3 separate regions of the Homo sapiens genome follow, and all the other regions are linked to region 2. Evidence: fine-mapped expression QTL. A gene starts in region 2. Each other region holds a variant in brackets. All regions are shown on one strand. Distances are from middle to middle.

Region 1 (2,763 bases), 30 kb after region 2:
ATGGCCAATCAGCTTCCTTCTTATGCAATCTTGATTAAGGACCTCAGAATGGGCTGAGCACTGGAGTGAGGGTTTGTGTTAAAAGGACATTTTCTACCCCGACAATCTCTGATGCAGACAAAGGGAGACCAGTCAGGAAGAGGTGGGAACAGAAAGGTCTGTCAAGAGAAAGGTGGGCAGTTCCAGTGACCTTTTTGCCTGGCCAAGAATCAGGGTTAGGGTCCTCCTCAGGGATGAGAGGTGAGTCATTACCTAGTGAAACCAGAAGCCCACAGGTCTCCAGCATCACCTCTCGGTACAGGGTCCTCTGGGCCAGGTCCAGCTGTCTCCACTCCTCCCGGGTAAAGGTCACAGCCACATCCTTGAAGGTCACCAACATCTGGAAAGTCAAACAGAAGTAATGCTATTGGCCTTGTGTTGTCGCATAGGATCAGAACCTGTCACTCAGTCTCTAGTCAATGTGCAGAGAGATCCAGGTCTGAATCAACTAGGTCTCCTTTGGGCTGACTTCCGTGCAGGGCTCAAAGGGGAGGCAGATACTGCCTTTTGACAATGCAATTGTGCCTGAGAGAAAAGCCTTCTATGGGGAAGCTGTTGAAGATGACACAAACAATGGCAATCCCACGAGGACTATGGGAAGCAGAGAGTAAGTACTCTGGCATATTAAAAGAATGGAGGAAAATGACTGATACTAATCCAACCACAATAACAGCAACAGCAGCAGCTAAGTGTGGGGGAAAGAAAAATAGATCAGACCGTTACTGTGTCTATGTAGAAAAAGGAAGACATAAGAAACTCCATTTTGATCTGTACTAAGAAAAATTCTTCTGCCTTGAGATGCTGTTAATCTGTAACCCTAGCCCCAACCCTGTGCTCACAGAAACATGTGCTGTATTGACTCAAGGTTTAATGGAGTTAGGGCTGTGCAGGATGTGCCTTGGTAAACATGTGTTTGCAGGCAGTATGCTTGGTAAAAGTCATCGCCATTCTCCCGTCTCGGGTACCCAGGGACACAATGCACTGCGGAAGGCCACAGGGACCTCTGCCCGAGAAAGCCTGGGTATTGTCCAAGGTTTCCCCCCACTGAGACAGCCTGAGATGTGGCCTCGTGGGAAGGGAAAGACCTTACCTTCCCTCAGCCCGACACCCATAAAGGGTCTGTGCTGACGAGGATTCATGAAAGAGGAAGGCCTCTTTGCAGTTGAGATAAGAGGAAGGCATCTGTCTCCTGCTTGTCCCTGGGAATGGAATGTCTTGGTGTAAAACCCGAGCGTACATTCTATTTACTGAGATAGGAGAAAGCCGCCTTATGGCTGGAGGTAAGACATGCTGGCGGCAATACTGCTCTTTACTGCACTGAGATGTTTGGGTAAAGTCAAACATAAATCTGGCCTACGTGCACATCGAGGCACAGCACCTTTCCTTAAACTTATTTATGACACAGAGTCCTTTGCTCACATGTTTTCCTGCTGACCCTCTCCCCACTCATTACCCTATAGTCCTGCCACATCCCCCTCATGGAGATGGTAGAGATAGTGATCAATAAATACTGAG[A/G]GAACTCAGAGACTGGTGCTGGTGTGGGTCCTCCATATGCTGAGTGCCAGTCCCCTGGGCCCACTTTTCTTCCTCTATACTTTGTCTCTGTGTCTTATTTCTTTTCTCAGTCTCTCATCTCCACCTTGCAAGAAATACCCACAGGTGTAGAGGGGCAGGCACCCTTCACTAAGTCCTCTGGTCCTCACTGTGTCCCTGCCAGGCTAAGGCTTCCTTAGCCGTGGTAAAGCAAATAAAGGCCTGACTTAAATCAGGCCTCCTGAATCTGACACTTGCCAGCTATGTGACTATGACGATGTCACATGATCTCTCTAAGGCTCGATTTCCGAATCAACACAATAACTATTCCCATCTCAGCAGGCAGCTCTAAGAACTAAACAGAAAATGTTCACTTAGGCAATCAGTGGAGTGCCTAGCACATGTAAGTGCCTGATGTGTTTGGGAACTTTATTAATCCCCTGACAGGCCCAGAGGTAAATGTCGTTATCACTTCCATTTCACAGTCAGCAAAGGCTCAGGGAGCTTTAGAAATCAGGCACAGCCTCACATTTAAAAAGCAAAAGCAGCATTTGAGCACCGCTAAAACACCTCACCAAGCTGCCAGAGAGCAGGCAGGTGGGAGTGAGGGGTGCTTTTAGCTACAGCCAGCACTGCCAGGATGGGTGTGGAACTGCAGCCCCGCAGAGACCTGAGAACAATGTCTCAGACAAAGGGAAGTGCAAGGGCAAAGGCTGAAAATGGGAAAGAGCTTGGCAAGCTCAGGATTCCCTGGATGAATGCAGTGAGAAAGGGGACAATGGAAGAGGAGAAAGAAGATGCGGTCAAAAGGGCAAACCAAGTACAGCCTTGCAGACCATGCTGGTAGGAGGGGGTGGATTTATTGGAAATGTGATGAGAGTCCCTATAAGAGAGGCCTATTCAATCATCAACCATTTATTAAGTACAATAAATGTACTTAAGCCTGGCTGTTCTGGGTCTTGGGAGAGGGAAGCAACAGGCACTCACATTCCAGGGTTGGAAAAAGATCCTAAACAGGCAACTAAATAAATGAGTAAGGCAATGTCAGATGGCCTTAAAGATTCAGATGACAAGAAAACAGAGCAAGGAGACCAAAGAGACTCTGGTCAGCTTTAAACGGTGCAACAGACGAGACCTCTTTAAGCAGCGGACACCAGAGGGAGTCAGAAATAAAGCAAAGGAGGGAGAGGT
Region 2 (2,763 bases):
GCACCTGGAACTGTTTATTTTCCTGTAAATGTTTGTGTAACCATTTATCTTTTAACTTTTTGCCTGTTCTGCTTCTGTAAAAATTGCTTCAGCTAAACTCCCCCTCCCCTATTTAGATCAAGGTATAAAAAGAAATCTAGCCCCTTCTTCGGGGCCAAGAATTTTGAGCTCTAGCTGTCTCTCGGTCGCTGGCAATAAAAGGACTCCAGAATTAGTCTCAGAGTGTGGCATTTCTCTATAACTCGCTCGGTTACAACACTATAGCCAAAGATTACATTCATAAAGATATTTTTACAATATAGGTGTCTTATTTAATATGACTCCAATCTAAATGGTAATTTTTCTAACCTTTCTTAAGTAATTATAAAATGTCAAAATTATAAACAATTAAAAACTAAAGAGAAATGAAGACAATGGATAGCAACAAAAGCTAATTGCTAAATATGGGGGAAAAAAGCCAGGCATGGTGGCTCATGCTTGTAATCCCAGCACTTTAAGGCAGGCGAATCACTTGAGGCCGGTTCTAGACCAGCCTGGCCAACATGGTGAAACCCTGTCTCTACTAAAAATACAAAAATTATCCGGGGGTGGTGGCGCATGCCTGTAGTCCCGGCTACTCGGGAGGCTGAGGCAGGAGAATCGCTTGAACCTGGGAGGTGGAGGTTACAGTGAGCAGAGATTGCACCACTGTACTCCAGTCTGGGCGACAGAGTGAGACTCTGTCAAAAAAAAAAAAGGAAAAAAAGAAAAGAAAAAGAAGATATAATGTTTCTGCAATCTCATTTCAGTTCCACTTATGATAATAGATACATTATGTAATTTAAGTCACTAACACTTGAGGGCAAAAAAACAGAATAAACACAAACGTGTGGGATAAGGGGATGCTGACCCCACTGTTAGTGATCACCTTGGTTGGAGACCCAGGTTTTATCATACAGATGAAGCCTGCAGGTAGCAAGTTTCAGAGAAATAGATTGTAAATGTTTCTTATCAGACTTAAGGTCTATGCTGATGTTATTGCTGTAGGGGTAGAATGAGGCATGTCCAACCCCTTCTTCCATAATGGCCTGAACTAGATTTTCAGGTTAACTCTATAATGCTGAGAGGAGGGGGTCCATTCAGATAGTTGGGAGGCCTTTGAATTTTATTTTTGGTTATAGTTTCTACATTAAAAAAAAGAAAAAAATTAAGGGTCGCGTCAATTCTCAATTGTCAACATTTTTAATGTATTGTATGCAATATATGTCAACTTTTGTGTTGAGAAATGAAGATCAAATCGTATTCTTTTATCCTGTGTATGTAATAGGCTTTGCTGACCCTAGTTTGATGGGTTTTTTCCTTTGTCCTCTCTTTCTTGGATTGAGTCCTCACAGCGCGGCGGACTGCGGCGTGGTAGGAACTACACCACCCAGAATACTGTGCGCCGAGCGTGCCGGGGCCTTAGACCAATCATTGCCCAGGAAAGGGGCACCTCCGTAAGTGCGCAATACGCCAGAATCTTCCGGCGTCTTTCCGGTGGTGGTCGTTTTTGCTGCCTGCGAGCGCGTCCGCGGGCTGGGCGTTTCCGGCTCGCTGGGTCCGGGCCAGGTAACTGGAGCCGGAAACCGGTGGAGGTGGTGTCCGCCCGCAGAGGAGCTTGCCTGGTCTCGGTCTGAGCGTCGCCCAGCGATTTGCCACCGCACGCACGCCGGATCCCGGGCTTTACCGCCCGCCTTTCCAGGCCCCGCCCCGCCTAAAGTCCCATGGCCGAGGCAGCGCTAGTGATTACGCCGCAGGTGAGAGCGGAGTCCTCGGATCCTCACCTGGGTCCTGAGGCCCCGGACTGGGGTCACCTGCGTGGGTCTCTGCAGTTCAGGCCTCTTCTCCAGGACAGCGAGGAGTTCTGGGTGGGGTCCTCAGAGCTGACGGGCGGTGAGGTGAAGAAGGGAGAGCGTTGCGTACCGTGGGGGCTGCACGCGCAGAGCCTGGGAGGTGCGCCGGGGTCGCGAGCATTCGGAAACTTGGGGGCGGACCTGTGTCTGCAGGGAGCAGAGAGAATGAGGAGAAGAAGGCACGGCTGCCATGGCAGCCTGAGCAACCGGGGTTTTTAATTCTGAGTCTTTGGGAGCCATGGAGGGTTGTGAACTAAAGGAGAACACGATCTGAGTGAGGGTCTGAAAAAATATTTCAAAGGCAATGAGTGGAGAAAACAGACTGTTACGGAGTGATGGGGGTGGACGCAGGGATACTGGTGAGGAGACTGCTGTAGTAGGCTCCAGGAGGATTATGGTGGATTCTGGACCAGACGGGTTGCTGAAGGGACCTAAGTAATAAGAATCTTGGTAGATCTTAAAGGTAAAGCCAGCAGGATTTTCTGCTCCATCATTTGTGCCTATGAGCAAAAGTGGGAGTGAAGTATGATCCCAAGTTTTTCTTTTACCTGAACATCTGGAAGAGTTGACAAAGAAATCTGGTGAGGGAGCAGGTTTCAGGGAAATAGTAGGAGTTGAATTTTGGACGTGGTGTTTCTAAATTGCCACAGAGTGAAGTTGTTACATGGGCAGTTGGAATCATAAGTAGAAAATTCATGGGAGGGGACTGACTCAGTGATGTGTAAATGGAGACAGGCTGGGGCGTAGACTCAAGCCAAGCCTTAAATTTAGACGGGAAATCTTAAGGTTTTACTTTGAGATGAAGAGAGGGAGGGCTGAGGCTGGAGGCTGGGAAAGTGTGGGTCGGCCTTGGCGAAGCTGCCTGCAGATAGGAGGGCCATGGGGTTCCGGG
Region 3 (2,763 bases), 26 kb after region 2:
TGAGGGAATGGGAAGGGAGGTATTTGGAACACAGGGTTGCAGATGGGGCTGGCCAAGAAGCCCAAGGGGAGAGCCCATGACTCAGTGGTGATACAAATCCACAAGGCAAATGGCTCCAGCTACACTCATCAGCACAGATGTAGGGCAGAGAAGGCCAAATGTCACCTTGGTGTTTCTCAGGGCAAGAGGGGCAGGAAGATATGGAGCAAAGGGCTGCTTCCGAGTCTCTGATGGTCTAACTGGAGGATGGATGAGTGGACGGAGAGGGTGGAAAAGAGTGGGATTCACAGCATAATGCAGACAGTAATATCAAGGGGAGGAAAGTCCCCTTTCTCTTGAGTCCAGAAAGAAATGTATGACATTACATTTATGATGATTAAAACTGTTCATGCATAATACTAACTAGCTGACATTTGTTGATCCTATGGACCAGGAACTGAACTAAGCAGTGTCATGTGTTATCTCTACATCCTCTAACAACTCAATGACACAGAAATTATATCACTCTGATTTTGTTGAGTAGAGGAGTCTGAGGTGATGTAAACCAAACCCATTAATTCTTTTCCATGGGCACATAGCCAAATCACATTTGTCAGTCCTGAGCATCTAGGTGTGGCCAAATGCCTAGTTCTTGTCAAGACTATGTGGTTGTCAAGTATGTGTACAACTGGGTATGACTTCTCCCCTTCTTCTTGTTCCCCTTCTACCAGCTGGATTGAGCCAGAGCAACCATAAAGATTCCTGTTCACAGCAAAAGGTACCTGTGTCTCTGAATAATTGTGTGGCTCAGTGCTCACCTGATGATGGACACTATGACCCAAAGTGAGTCAGAAACAACCAGGCCCCCGGAAAGCCACAATGAGCAGTTTCACACAGAAATTCAGAGGCAGTGGTGCCCTCACATTATCTGAAGACTGCCATGACTCCACATGACCAGCTGGTGGCTGCTTACCTGCACAGGTAGCATGTGAGAGGCCTCTCTTCACTATCCACAGCTCCTGCCCATGCTCTAGCAGGTGGACCAACTCTGGTTTGGGAACCCGATGCCCTGTTGATAGCAAAAGAAATAGAATAGGGGTAATTTAATGAGAAAATGAAAGTCTCTCCATCTTGCCTAGGACTTCATGACAGGGTCCAGACATGAATGCAGCTGCTCCCAAAGTAAGCAAAATGCTGATGTGAGCCCTGAAAATCAAGGGCATTGCTCTGAGTGAGCTGTGTTCCCCATAAAAATCATATGTTGA[T/C]GCCCTAACACCCAACGTGACTGTATATGGAGACAGGATCTTTAGAAGGTAATTAAAATTAAATGAGGCCACAAGGGTGGAGCCTTAATCTGATAAAATTATGGCCTCATAAAAACAGAGAGAGATCTCTCCTCTGTCCCTCCACCTTGTAAGAACACAGCAAGTCAGCCATCTGCAAGCCAGGAAGAGAGGTCTCAATAGGAATCAAATTTGCCGACACCTTGATCTTGGACTTCTCAGCCTCCAGAAGCATAAGAAAATAAACTCTCGTTGTTTAAACCACCCAATCCATGACATTTTATTATGGCAGCCAAGGAGATAAAAGACAGGCACAAATCCCACTGTTGGGCTACAACTGCCATGGAGGGTAGTGCTATCTGTCTACACAACACCCACTGCCCATGACCTCCGTCTATGGAAGCCAACGTTGTTCAGGCACACAACACTTTGACAGCCATGGGACACGGCAAAGGTGTGCTGCTTCCTCCAGAAGGCATTTTCTTTCTTTCTTTCTTTCTTTTTTTGAAACAGAGTCTCACTCTGTTGCCCAGGCTGGAGTGCAGTGCTCGGCTCACTGCAACCTCTGCCTCCCAGGTTCAAGGGATTCTCGTGCCTCAGCCACCCGAGTAGCAGGGATTACAGGCATGCAAAACCATGCCTGGCTAGTTTTTGTATTTTTAATAGAGACTGGGATTCACAATATTGGTCAGGCTGGTCTCGAGTGCCTGGCCTCAAGTGATCCTCCTGCCTCAGTCTCCCAAGGTGCTACTGCACCCGGCCCCAGGAGGCATTTTCTAACAAATCTAAATCATTGCTTCTCAAACACCTCGTGCTTTCAGAACCACTTGGGGATGCGTGATTCCAACCTCAAACCAAATGAAACAAAATTTCTTCGTGTGAGACCTGGGCATCAGTACTTCCAAAATGTGCCCCCCAAAATTCTGGTGCCCAGATGGGGCTGCAAACCACTGGCTGAGGCTGGACATGGTGGCTCATGCTGTAATCCCAGCACTATAGGAGGCCGAGGCAGGAGGATCACTTGAGGCCAGGAGTTCTAAACCAGCCTGGCCAACATGGTGAAACCCCGTCTCTACCAAAAATATAAAAAATTAGCCAGGTATGGTGGTGTGCACCTATGGTCCTAGCTACTCAAGGGGATGAGGTTGGGAGGATTGCTTGAGCCTAGGAAGCAGAGGCTGCAGTGAGCTGAGATCATGGCACTGCACTTCAGCCTGAATGACAGAGCAAGACTCCATCTCAAAAAAAAAGGAAAAGAAAAACCAGTGGTTGAAATAAATTGGTAATGCAAGAGTCTTCATTAGGCAGGTGACCAAAGCTGGATTCTCATTGTGAAAAGAAAGCATTTATTCCAAGGTGGGAGGATGGATTGAACATGGGGGCCTGCTGCCCCAGTCAAGGCTGCAGCACCCAGCATCCCTATGAGGAGCCAGCCTGAGGACAATCAGAAGCCTGAACCAAGAAGAAGGAACAGAGAACCAAGACATCCTTGATGGCGTCA

The links.
Region 1: its variant is fine-mapped to the expression of ZNF549 in cerebellar hemisphere (GTEx, PIP above 0.99). The same link has a PIP of 0.9 or more in cerebellum, skeletal muscle and whole blood.
Region 3: its variant is fine-mapped to the expression of ZNF549 in anterior cingulate cortex (GTEx, PIP 0.97).

Annotation. Positions count from the first base shown.
Region 1 is chr19:57,555,979-57,558,741 of GRCh38, forward strand. ZNF550 (zinc finger protein 550) reads right to left here. Exons shown (of 4, transcript NM_001397372.1): 2 at 253-379. Among named protein-coding and RNA genes, the nearest start is that of ZNF550, 2.5 kb to the right of the region's middle. The variant A/G (reference allele first, on the strand shown) is at 1,555.
Region 2 is chr19:57,525,832-57,528,594 of GRCh38, forward strand. It overlaps ZNF549 (zinc finger protein 549), which reads left to right and starts at 1,525. Exons shown (of 4, transcript NM_001199295.2): 1 at 1,525-1,775. The coding sequence starts at 1,743.
Region 3 is chr19:57,551,675-57,554,437 of GRCh38, forward strand. It overlaps ZNF550 (zinc finger protein 550), which reads right to left. Exons shown (of 4, transcript NM_001397372.1): 3 at 953-1,048. Among named protein-coding and RNA genes, the nearest start is that of ZNF550, 6.8 kb to the right of the region's middle. The variant T/C (reference allele first, on the strand shown) is at 1,245.